Homo sapiens: one gene and its partners. The protein of the gene in region 1 purifies or fractionates together with the protein of each later gene. This does not show direct contact. Each region holds a gene or a part of one and is shown on either strand. Other genes may lie near its edges. The genes, in order: KLHL7, EOLA1 and GLI3.

Region 1 (3,655 bases):
GCGCCTGTAGTCCCAGCTACTCAGGAGGCTGAGGCAGGAGAATGGCGTGAACCCAGGAGGCGGAGCTTGCAGTGAGCTGAGATCACGCCACTGCACTGCAGCCTGGGCGACAGAGGCAGACGCCGTCTCAAAAAACAAAAAACAATTTGATGAATTCAACTTTATAAAACATAATTAAGGCACAATGATTAACTCTGAAGTATTAACAATTCTTTTGTCTTACATTTATGTATTGTTTTAAAAATGGTTTGACAGTCACCACTCTCATTTTCAAAGTTCTCTGTTAAGGTGAGGTGGACAGCATGGCTCCTGTTTTTAGGAAAAACACACACGCTCATCCAGGTGAAGTGACCGGCATACAGCTCGGAAGTGGGACAGCAGTAAAAACTAGGTCTTCACTGCCCTGCACGTAGTGAGATTTATAGACTCAGCTATCATCATGCATTAAAACACAGTATTTGACTTGGAAAAATTCCATTTACATACCACTTTCTTCTCCAAATATAATGTTAATGATATAAAAAGACAGCATGTCTTTATGTATATCTAAATCTCCTGAAGGTTTAGAAAAAACTTTCACAAATTCCCCTTCCTCCTATAATTCACATGCAGAGTACATACTAGGTCCCCGCTATCTGCAATCTGAAGTTTAATGTTTAGAAGCGTTTTTTCGCCTGTAATCCCAGCACTTTGGGAGGCCAAGGTGGGCAGATCACAAGGTCAAGAGATGGAGGCCATCCTGGCCAACATGGTGAAACCCCGTCTCTACTGAAAATACAAAAATTAGCCCGTGTGGTGGCGTGCGCCTGTAATCCCAGCTACTCAGGAGGCTGAGGCAGGAGAATCGCTTGAACCTGGGAGGCAGAAGTTGCAGTGAGCTGAGATCGTGCCACTGCATTCCAGCATGGTGACAGAGTGAGACTCCGTCTCACAAAAAAAAAAAAAAAAAGTCATTTCTTAAAATTCTGACCGCTCAAACTGTGTCACATTGTTTCCATAGACATAATTTCTTTCTTTCTTCAGTTACTTTATTATGAGCTTCTGCTCCTCTCCATCTTTTTTAAAACTGATTTTAAAAATGTGATACATAATACATGTACATATTTTTATGGTACCTGTGATATTTTGACACATGTATACAATGTGTAATGATCAAGTCAGAGTAACTGGGATATCCAGCACCTGAAACATTTATCTTTCCTTTTGTTTCTTTTTGGGCTAGGGAAGGAACCCAGGCCTCCCATGTTGCTGCTGAGGAATATCTTTTCTTTGTGTTGGGAACATTCCAATTCTTCTCTAGCTATTTTGAAATATACAATAAATTATTGTTAACTATAGTCTCCCTACTGTACTACTGAATATTAGAACTTATCCTATCTAACTGTATTTCTGTACTTGTTAACCAACCTCTGATAACCATCATTCTACTCTCTACCTCCATGAGATCAACATTTTTAGCTCCCACATGAGTGACAACATGTGTTATTTGTGTTTCTATGGTCCATAGGCTTAGTTTTTCAGCTTCCAATTAAACACATTCTAATTATCAAACACTTAAAATGTCAAAATTGGGAAGAAATTCTTATTAAAAAAAACTTGGCTGGCTAGATAACTTTTTGTTTTTATTTTTGTTTTTGTTTTTGAGACAGAGTTTCGCTCTTGTTGCCCTGGCTGCAGTGCAATGGCACGATCTCAGCTCACTACAACCTCCACCTCCCGGGTTCAAATGATTCTCCTGCCTCAGCCTCCTGAATAGCTGGGATTACAGGCACGCGCCACCACGCCCGGCTAATTTTTTTTGGTATTTTTAGACGAGACAGAGTTTCACCATGTTGGTCAGGCTGGTCTCGAACTCCTGACCTTAGACGATCCACCAGCCTCGGCCTCCCAAAGTGCTGGGATTACAGGTATGAACCACCACACCTGGACTAGGTAACATTTTTAAAAGGAAATAATATAACATTTATTTTGAGAGTTGGATAATTATATTCACACTAGCTTTTCATTTGTGAAAATTTAAGGGCATTGAAGGGAACATAGAGAATTCAAATTTAAGCTCAATATATATAAAATGAAAGAAATGCTAGGTCTTGTAAGTTTTTAAATATTCCTGAAACTGAATATTCACCTAGTTTTAAAAAATACAGAAGCTGCAGAACTCCTTTATATTTTTACTTTGAACAAAAAAGTAAGTAAAAAATCAATATTAATTTACATTGATAGTGCCTGAATAAAGATGTAAAAATTTAGAAACCTAGAGTTTTTATGGTTATGGCTTCTCTTTTAAGAGATTTTTTAGAAATAAAAAATAATTAGCAGAATGAATCAGTTTTCCAACTAGTATGCTGTAACACTTTTTGAGCCTAGGGTTTATGGGAAGTAAGGTAGAGGTTCACATAAAAGGGAGCAAAGTTGGTAAACATCTTTAGCAAAAGACAAATTTCAAGACAACTTGCTTTTCTATTATTTGCACTGGAAAGAAGTTATTGATTATGCTTCCTTAAATCTTTTAAAAATATGTGGGAATCATAGATAAATGCACATAATTAATCATATTTTATAATTAAGCTCTTATTTTTTTATTTTTTATTTTTTTTTGAGATGGAGTCTTGCTCTGTCACCCAGGCCGGAGTGCTGTGGCACAATCTTGGCTCACTGCAACCTCCGCCTCCCAGGTTCAAGCAATTTTCCTGCTTCAGCCTCCCCAGTAGTGGATTACAGGCACGCGCCACAACACCCAGCTAGTTTTTGTATTTTTAGTAGAGACGGGATTTTGCCATGTTGGCCAGGCTGATCTCATACTCCTGACCTCAAGTGATCTGCCTGCCTCAGCCTCCCAAAGTGCTGGAATTATAGGCATGAGCCACCATGCCTGGCATCTTATTTCTTAATTTTAAAAAAAGCAGTAGCTGGAGTTGAAGACTTCCATGTTTTGTAGTTTGGCAATATTTCCTAAATATAAAACTTTAAGCACGAGAGTTTTGATGCAACTCTGGCATAGCATTTTAGTGAACGTATTCACCCAGTAACTTGTTCTAGTAAGGGAAGAACGATGGGCAATCCAGCCATATGATCAAGTGACTTTTCTTATCAAAGCTCTTTGGATGTTTCCATAAAAGGTACGACTAGGGTATCATCTGTTTTATGTCCTCATCAGCTTTAATGTCACTACTCACAACCCGTGCCCTCATGCCCTCTCCATTATTCAATGATTAGCACATTTCCTTTGGCTACATTGAATGTGTTCCATCATTAACTACAAGGTCAGAAAAACTGGCTAACCAGTTATTTCTTTAGCATTTTACCTTTTTGACACACTTTGCCTTTTTAAAAGCAGTTGATTTAAGAATAATTTTATTTAATAAACATGAATCTAAATGTACTTAGGAAGTTTACACCTAAAAAGAACTAGGGAGGCATGATTTATTAATGCCATGAGCCAATATCTAATATTTCTACTTAAGGATAAATTTATTGCTGGTCATAAACTCCCCCCTCCTCCTCTACATTTCCTGACCGCTCAAACAAAAACATTTTATGAGTTGACGAATCAATCAGATGTGTCTCATTCATAGGCATTTATTGCACGCAGAACCAGAAAGAAAGAGGTTCCCATGGGGTGTAAGTTCAAGCCATTTCTGGTGTAAGGGAAAGG
Region 2 (2,565 bases), on another chromosome or scaffold:
TGGCATGAGGCCGGCCATGGGTGCTTGTGGGGATAGGTCAGTCAGTGGAGTGGGTGGTGGGGGGGGTGGGGAATAAAGGGAGAAAGGTGGGGGTGGGGGCAGAAGGTTCAGAGAGGAAGTAGAGACTGCGCATGTAGACAGCTCTTCTGAGGTCTCGGCTGTTCAGGGTTGTAGAGAAGGGAGGCAGAGTGGGAGGCGCGCGTGTGCTCAGAGTAGGGATGCTGAGCGAGCATAGATGGTGGCTGGTGGCACCCAGGGCCCGGAGTGAGCCAGAGGAGCAGGGTCCAGAGCACAGCAGGCAACCGGCTCAGCTGAGGCAGCTCACCCCAGAGGCGGGAGAAAAGCAGGAGATCTGGAGCTCAGAAGGCTGCAGTGCAGACTGGGAAAGGAGTGAATACCAGGCAGCTTTGGCCCTATCAGGGCTTTGTCTCATGAGGGTGGGTATATTTTCTTAAAATCATAGAGCGTACTAGAGGTTGCGTTTATGTGTTGAAAGGAAGGACAGAGAGAGGAGTAGGGGCAGCTCAAGGGTGGAGTTCAGGGCCGGGGGCGGGGCCACGGGCCTGAGGGGTGAGGGCAGCCACTATTTCTGACTGTTCTATTAGGTGCCACGTACTGGGCTGGGTGCTCTTGGTGCCTTATCTCCCTTCCTCACAGCCATGTGGAAACTGAGGCATCTCAAGAGTCTATGACTGGGCTGAGGTTCTGGTTTCGAGCCCAGGGTTCCTTCCAAGGCACAGGGCCGTCCTCCATGCAAGAGGAGGGGACCCTCTCCCAAGCCAGACACGCAGGAGGCTGGGCAAGAGTTGTGGGAAGTCAGAGCCCGTGTGACTGTGGGCTGGTGCCTCATTCTCCTCAGCCATAGAGTGGGCCTCACAGTACCACTGACCCTGCTGGGTTACTTGAAGATTCAATTTGATGATCCGAGGATCATGCCATCCCAGAGGCTGGCACGTGGAAGGCATGTGTGTGGGGTTGCTAGTTGTTCTGATTATCATTCTTCTTTTCTCAGCTCAGATTGGGACAGGGGCATCTGCTGACAGTGGAGAGCAGTGGTAGGGGAAGGGGCTTGAGGAAGGTGGCACCCAGAGGGGTGGAGAGGAGATGTCTGACTGAGGGCCATCTGAGGTCACGGTGCATCCTGAGGACAGAGCTGAGATTGGATATCAACGATGTGGGCTCAGCAGCCCTGGAGTAGGAGCTGGGAAGGTCAGTGCCTTGGTGGCGGCAGGGCCAGGGCACTGAGAGTATTGGCAGGGCACAGCAGGGGAAAGGGAAGAGAAGCAGAGGGTGGGACTCTCCCTCTGTGCTGGAAGAGGGCTAACACCAGCCCGGACTCTCCACTCTGGCTAGGCCAAGGGGGCCCTCTGTCCTCTGTGTTGCCCTAGGGCTCGGTGACCTCTGTCATAGCACTGACCACATGGTATCCTGCCTGTGCCTTCCTCTAGCTGTCCCCGCCCTACTCCGGACCGCCCCAAAGACTCCATGGGATGGACCTGAGTCAGCCGAATCCCAGCCCCTTCCCTTGGGCCTGCTGTGGTGCTGGACATCAGTGACAGACGGAAGCAGGAGACCATCAAGGTCAGTGCGATTTAGGCCACCTGAGAGACACGGGGGGAAGGTCAGGCCACTGCCCATGAGCTTGGAGGGCTGGCGTGTGATGCGCTTCTGTGCTTCCGCAGGCTACGGGAGGCCCGGGGCGCTTGCGAAGATGAAGTTTGGCTGCCTCTCCTTCCGGCAGCCTTATGCTGGCTTTGTCTTAAATGGAATCAAGACTGTGGAGACGCGCTGGCGTCCCCTGCTGAGCAGCCAGCGGAACTGTACCATCGCCGTCCACATTGCTCACAGGGACTGGGAAGGCGATGCCTGGCGGGAGCTGCTGGTGGAGAGACTCGGGATGACTCCTGCTCAGATTCAGGCCTTGCTCAGGAAAGGGGAAAAGTTTGGTCGAGGAGTGATAGCGGGTAAGTGACAATGTACCAAATGCGCAGACAACGCCTAGGGCTGCTGCCCAAGATCTTGCTTGGGAATTTGGGGGCTTCTCTTGTCATCTGAACTGATTGGCGTGTATAACACAGTTTCCTTTGGCAACACACCTTCAAAGGGGCGGCAAGGACCTTGGGCTGGGGGTTGGTATGGCTGGCTTCCACGAGTTCTGGTAAATCATTTCTCCACTCTGGGCCTCAGTTCCTGTTTCTGATCTCAGTGAGAAGCCTGGTCAGGGCCATGTGCACATGGTGTTTGTGGTGTTTGGCTGTGTGTATTTGCACATACATGTGTGAGTGCACATGTGTGGCAGAGACCATGAAAAGCAGCCCAGCCCGCCGAATGGGTCAGGTGGCCTCTAGAGTTGGGCTGCCCGCCTGGCTTCATGAACCTGCCCCAGCCCCACCACTCACAGCACCCTGGGAAAGTCCCCTAACCTCTAGGTGACTGAGGCCCGACATCAGCATCTGTCCCCTGGTGACCTGCTCAGGCATCACCTGTAGCTTCCCAGGCAGTGGCTGGTGCCCTTCCAATCTGCAACCGCTGCCCTCAGAAGTCTGGCTTGGACCTGCCTCTTAC
Region 3 (3,655 bases), about 19 Mb from region 1:
ACTCTGTTCATTAATGTGACTCTACATTTTGCCTATTTGACTACAATCCATAACAGGCAGCTTCAATGGGATTACATTACTATCATTCCTGCAGAGAACCTTACATTACAATAGCTTGCCCATTTAAGACTGAATATCATTAAGAATACCCTAGGAGAATTTCACCAGGCTTTGAGAAACTCTCCTTTCATTCTACATTGTATTTCCTTAATAAAGGAAAGCAGAAACGTGGTGAAAACAGTCATTGTTCACAGTAAGTTAGGGAGAAATCAGTAATAATATTCCGTTTCTGCAGCGTTATAGTTACTGCCAGTGTTTCCAAAAGCAAGCATGAATGATTATGGCAAGACTTAGCTAAGGTAGCTGTGTGGATGATTGATAGGGCATTAATCAAAAGATGCATATCTGCCTCAGAATTTGTTCACAAGCTTTCTTCTAATAGCTGATTTCATGTTCACTGAGCTCTATGCCAGTTTGTCCAATTTATTTTTCAGTGTACAAGCCATTCATCAAAAAACACAATGATTTAACAGCCCCCCTTCCTTTGGGTGAATGAGTATTACTAAGTGTAACTACGTTATTCTATTCATTAAATAAACAAAAACCAAAATAACCCACTTCACATATAATTACCATGGCACACCGACTTTGCATGTATCTCCAAACACCTTTCCAGGGTTCTAGGAGCCTAGACTATCTGGCAGAGTTGAAAGAGGGTCCCTGAAGGTCATTTATACTTCTAATTCTGGGAGACACGACATTTGGGGGCTTAAAAAATCAGTACTTAATTAAAAATAGAGACCATTCAGAAAACATGCCCTTGATTTTATACAAAAGCAACTCAAAAGCATTCACAGACGGATAAGGGAAGTGCATTTTAAAAAAGATGTAGGAGGCCGGGCGCGGTGGCTCACGCCTGTAATCCCAGCACTTTGGGAGGTTGAGGCGGGTGGGTCACCTGAGGTCAGGAGTTCGAGACAAGCCTGACCAACATGGCGAAACCTCGTTTCTACTAAAAATACAAAAATTAGCCAGGCGTGATGGCATGCACCTGTAATCCCAGCTGCTCGAGAGTCTGAGGCAGGAGAATCACTTGAACTGGAGAGGCGGAGGTTGCGGTGAGCCAAGATCGCGCCACTGCACTCCAGCCTGGGTGACAGAGCAAGACTCCGTCTCAAAAATAAATAATAATAATAATAATAATAATAATAAATAAAAATAAAGAAATAAAAAGATGTAGGAGATATCCTTACAAAAGATAAGACTCAGCATTCCCACCGCAGTTTCCTAGGTCTACGATCCTCCTTGTCCTCGGGGAGCAGGGGTAGGGGTTCTGAAAGCTCTTCACATACTTTGGCCATATCCCCATTCAGGGCCTCCACCTTTTTGCTGGTAAAACCAGGTGACGGGAATAAATGTTCTCTAAAATCCACATCAACAATTAGACTGCAAGGGCTATGAGGGAACACACAGTGGACGGTGATCCTGAGCCTTCAGTGCTTATTCATAAGAAGCCAGCAACAGAAACATTCTCCTCCTCCTCGTGCACAGACCTGGGCCAGGGCAGGGTATGGGACAGCTTGTCTGGACCCAGAAGGGCTGGCCCTCGACCTTCTGCTGCTGCTCCTGCCAGGGACTGTGCGCAGGAAGGCTGCTCCACTCCAGATGACAAAGCCAATTTAGAATTTGATGACAAAAGTAGAAAGTTCTCAGCTCTGACACAGTATCACTTAACAGATTTGGGAGTCAAGGCTCCTCTGCTCTCAGAACACTGCCATCAGAGTGCTGGGGCAGAGGACGGGCGATGACTGGGCACAGCAAACGGATGTCAAGAGTCGCAGACAAAATGCCCATGAGAAAGGATGCCTCCCACGCATACCCTCAACTCTCTTGGGCAAGATCAAGGTATGAAAAGATTCTCCTGAGGTTTTCCCACTAGGGGGATAAGAAAACCTGAGCCACCACAGCCTCCTCCTTTAAATCAAGGTGGGGAGGGCCGTGGAGGAGGGGAGTCCTGCATCCTTTTGCCTCCTGTCACAGCATGAGTCCCTCTGCATCTTCAGCACTCACAGTGTCCCCTGCCTGGAACCCTTGGCTTCCAGAGCTCACAATGGCCACTTCCTTTTTTACATTCACGTTCCAGCTTAAATGTCACCTCCTCAGAGGGGCCTTCTTAGACTCATGCCCCATCAAAACGAGGCCCCTCTGCACCTCCTTGCCCCATCGTTTTCTACTGCGTGACAATTCTATTCTCATGGCAGCACGCAGTACTCTCTAAAACTCTTTCTGTCTCTCTGTCTAGGAGGCAAGGTCCAGCTGGGCCGGGCAGTGTGCCTGGCAGAGCAGACACGCAGTACTGAGTCAATGAGTGACTGAATCCATTCTTCAGTGTCTATTAGTTCCCTGTTGCTGCTGCAACAAACAGCCCAAACTGAGTGGCTTAAAAAAACAGACACTGTTTATTACCTTACAGTTCTGGAAGTCAGAAGTCTGCAATAGGCCGGCGGGGCTGCATTATTCCAGACGGTCTAGGCTCCCTGCCTGTTCCATTACCTGGAGGCTGCCCACATTCCTTGGCTCAGGGGTCCACATCACTCAGGCCTCCTCCTCCTCCTCCTCTGACCCTAACTTGCCTCTCCTGCTTCCCTCTCACAGGGGACCCTGTGATTACATCACTGCCACCCGGATAATCGAGGATCATCTTCTCATCTCAAGATCCTTAGCTTAATCACACCTGCAAAAGTCGTTCTGGCATGGAAGGTAACCTATTCACAGGTCCTGGGGATTAGGATGTGGACATCTTTGGGGCCGTTATCCTGCCTACCACACTCAAAAGAGTCACCTCAAAGAAAACTATGTTTTCCTCTGAAAACTACAATTTGACAACATGTCTGTAAAGCAGTATTACACAAACGAAGCTAGTGTCTACATCCATTTCTTTCTGCAGCACTTCAATGGCACAGGACAGACTTTGCTGATTAAAGATATCAGAATTAAAAACAGAAGGTAAATTCTATTTTTAGGGGCCCTGAATAAGAACCTTCCTAAATAGTTCATGTATTCATTCCACAATTTCCTACAAATAGAAATTATTACTATTGTTGATTTGTTTTTTTTTTTTTTGTTTTTTTGTTTCTTGTTTTTTTTTTGAGATGGAGACTCGTTCTGTCTCCCAGGCTGGAGTGCAGTGGCACGATCTCAGCTCACTGAAACCTCCGCCTCCCAGGTTCAAGCGATTCTCCTGCCTCAGCCTCCCGAGCAGCTGGGATTACAGGCATGCACCACCATGCCCAGCTAATTTTTGTATTTTTAGTAGAGATGGGGTTTCACCATGTTGGCCAGGCTAGTCTTGAACTCCTGACCTCAAGTGATCCGGCCGCCTCGGCCTCCCAAGGTGCTGGGATTACAGGCATGAGCCACCACACCCAGGCATAGTTGAAATTGTTAATAATCTCTTATACCTTCTCTAGAGCAGGACATAATCTACAGTCTAAACCTTGGTACCTGTGCTTCCCATCCTCATAGCCTCCATGTTTCTGTTCACCCCACTCTTTCCAATGAGTCACCAGAAATTAATTTTACATTCTGATTCTGAATTCTCTGCATTCAACAATTAATCTGTTATTATTTCTAAAATTACTTTTATAGCTTTTGT

The links.
Region 2: the proteins of KLHL7 (region 1) and EOLA1 purify together in Homo sapiens (co-immunoprecipitation; one large-scale study listed by IntAct). This does not show direct contact.
Region 3: the proteins of KLHL7 (region 1) and GLI3 purify together in Homo sapiens (affinity purification with mass spectrometry, with the first as the bait; one large-scale study listed by BioGRID). This does not show direct contact.

Annotation. Positions count from the first base shown.
Region 1 is NC_000007.14:23,168,202-23,171,856, reverse strand, and holds part of KLHL7 (kelch-like protein 7), read right to left. Parts: intron 1-3,655. UniProt on the Homo sapiens protein: Substrate-specific adapter of a BCR (BTB-CUL3-RBX1) E3 ubiquitin ligase complex. The BCR(KLHL7) complex acts by mediating ubiquitination and subsequent degradation of substrate proteins. Probably mediates 'Lys-48'-linked ubiquitination.
Region 2 is NC_000023.11:149,543,920-149,546,484, forward strand, and holds part of EOLA1 (protein EOLA1), read left to right. Parts: exon of another isoform or gene 1-1,172; coding exon of another isoform or gene 1,173-1,209; intron 1,210-1,448; coding exon of another isoform or gene 1,449-1,581; intron 1,582-1,682; coding exon of another isoform or gene 1,683-1,711; coding exon 1,712-1,964; intron 1,965-2,565. UniProt on the Homo sapiens protein: May play a role in cell protection during the inflammatory response. In epithelial cells, negatively regulates IL6 production and apoptosis through the regulation of MT2A expression.
Region 3 is NC_000007.14:42,027,588-42,031,242, forward strand, and holds part of GLI3 (transcriptional activator GLI3), read right to left. Parts: intron 1-3,655. UniProt on the Homo sapiens protein: Has a dual function as a transcriptional activator and a repressor of the sonic hedgehog (Shh) pathway, and plays a role in limb development.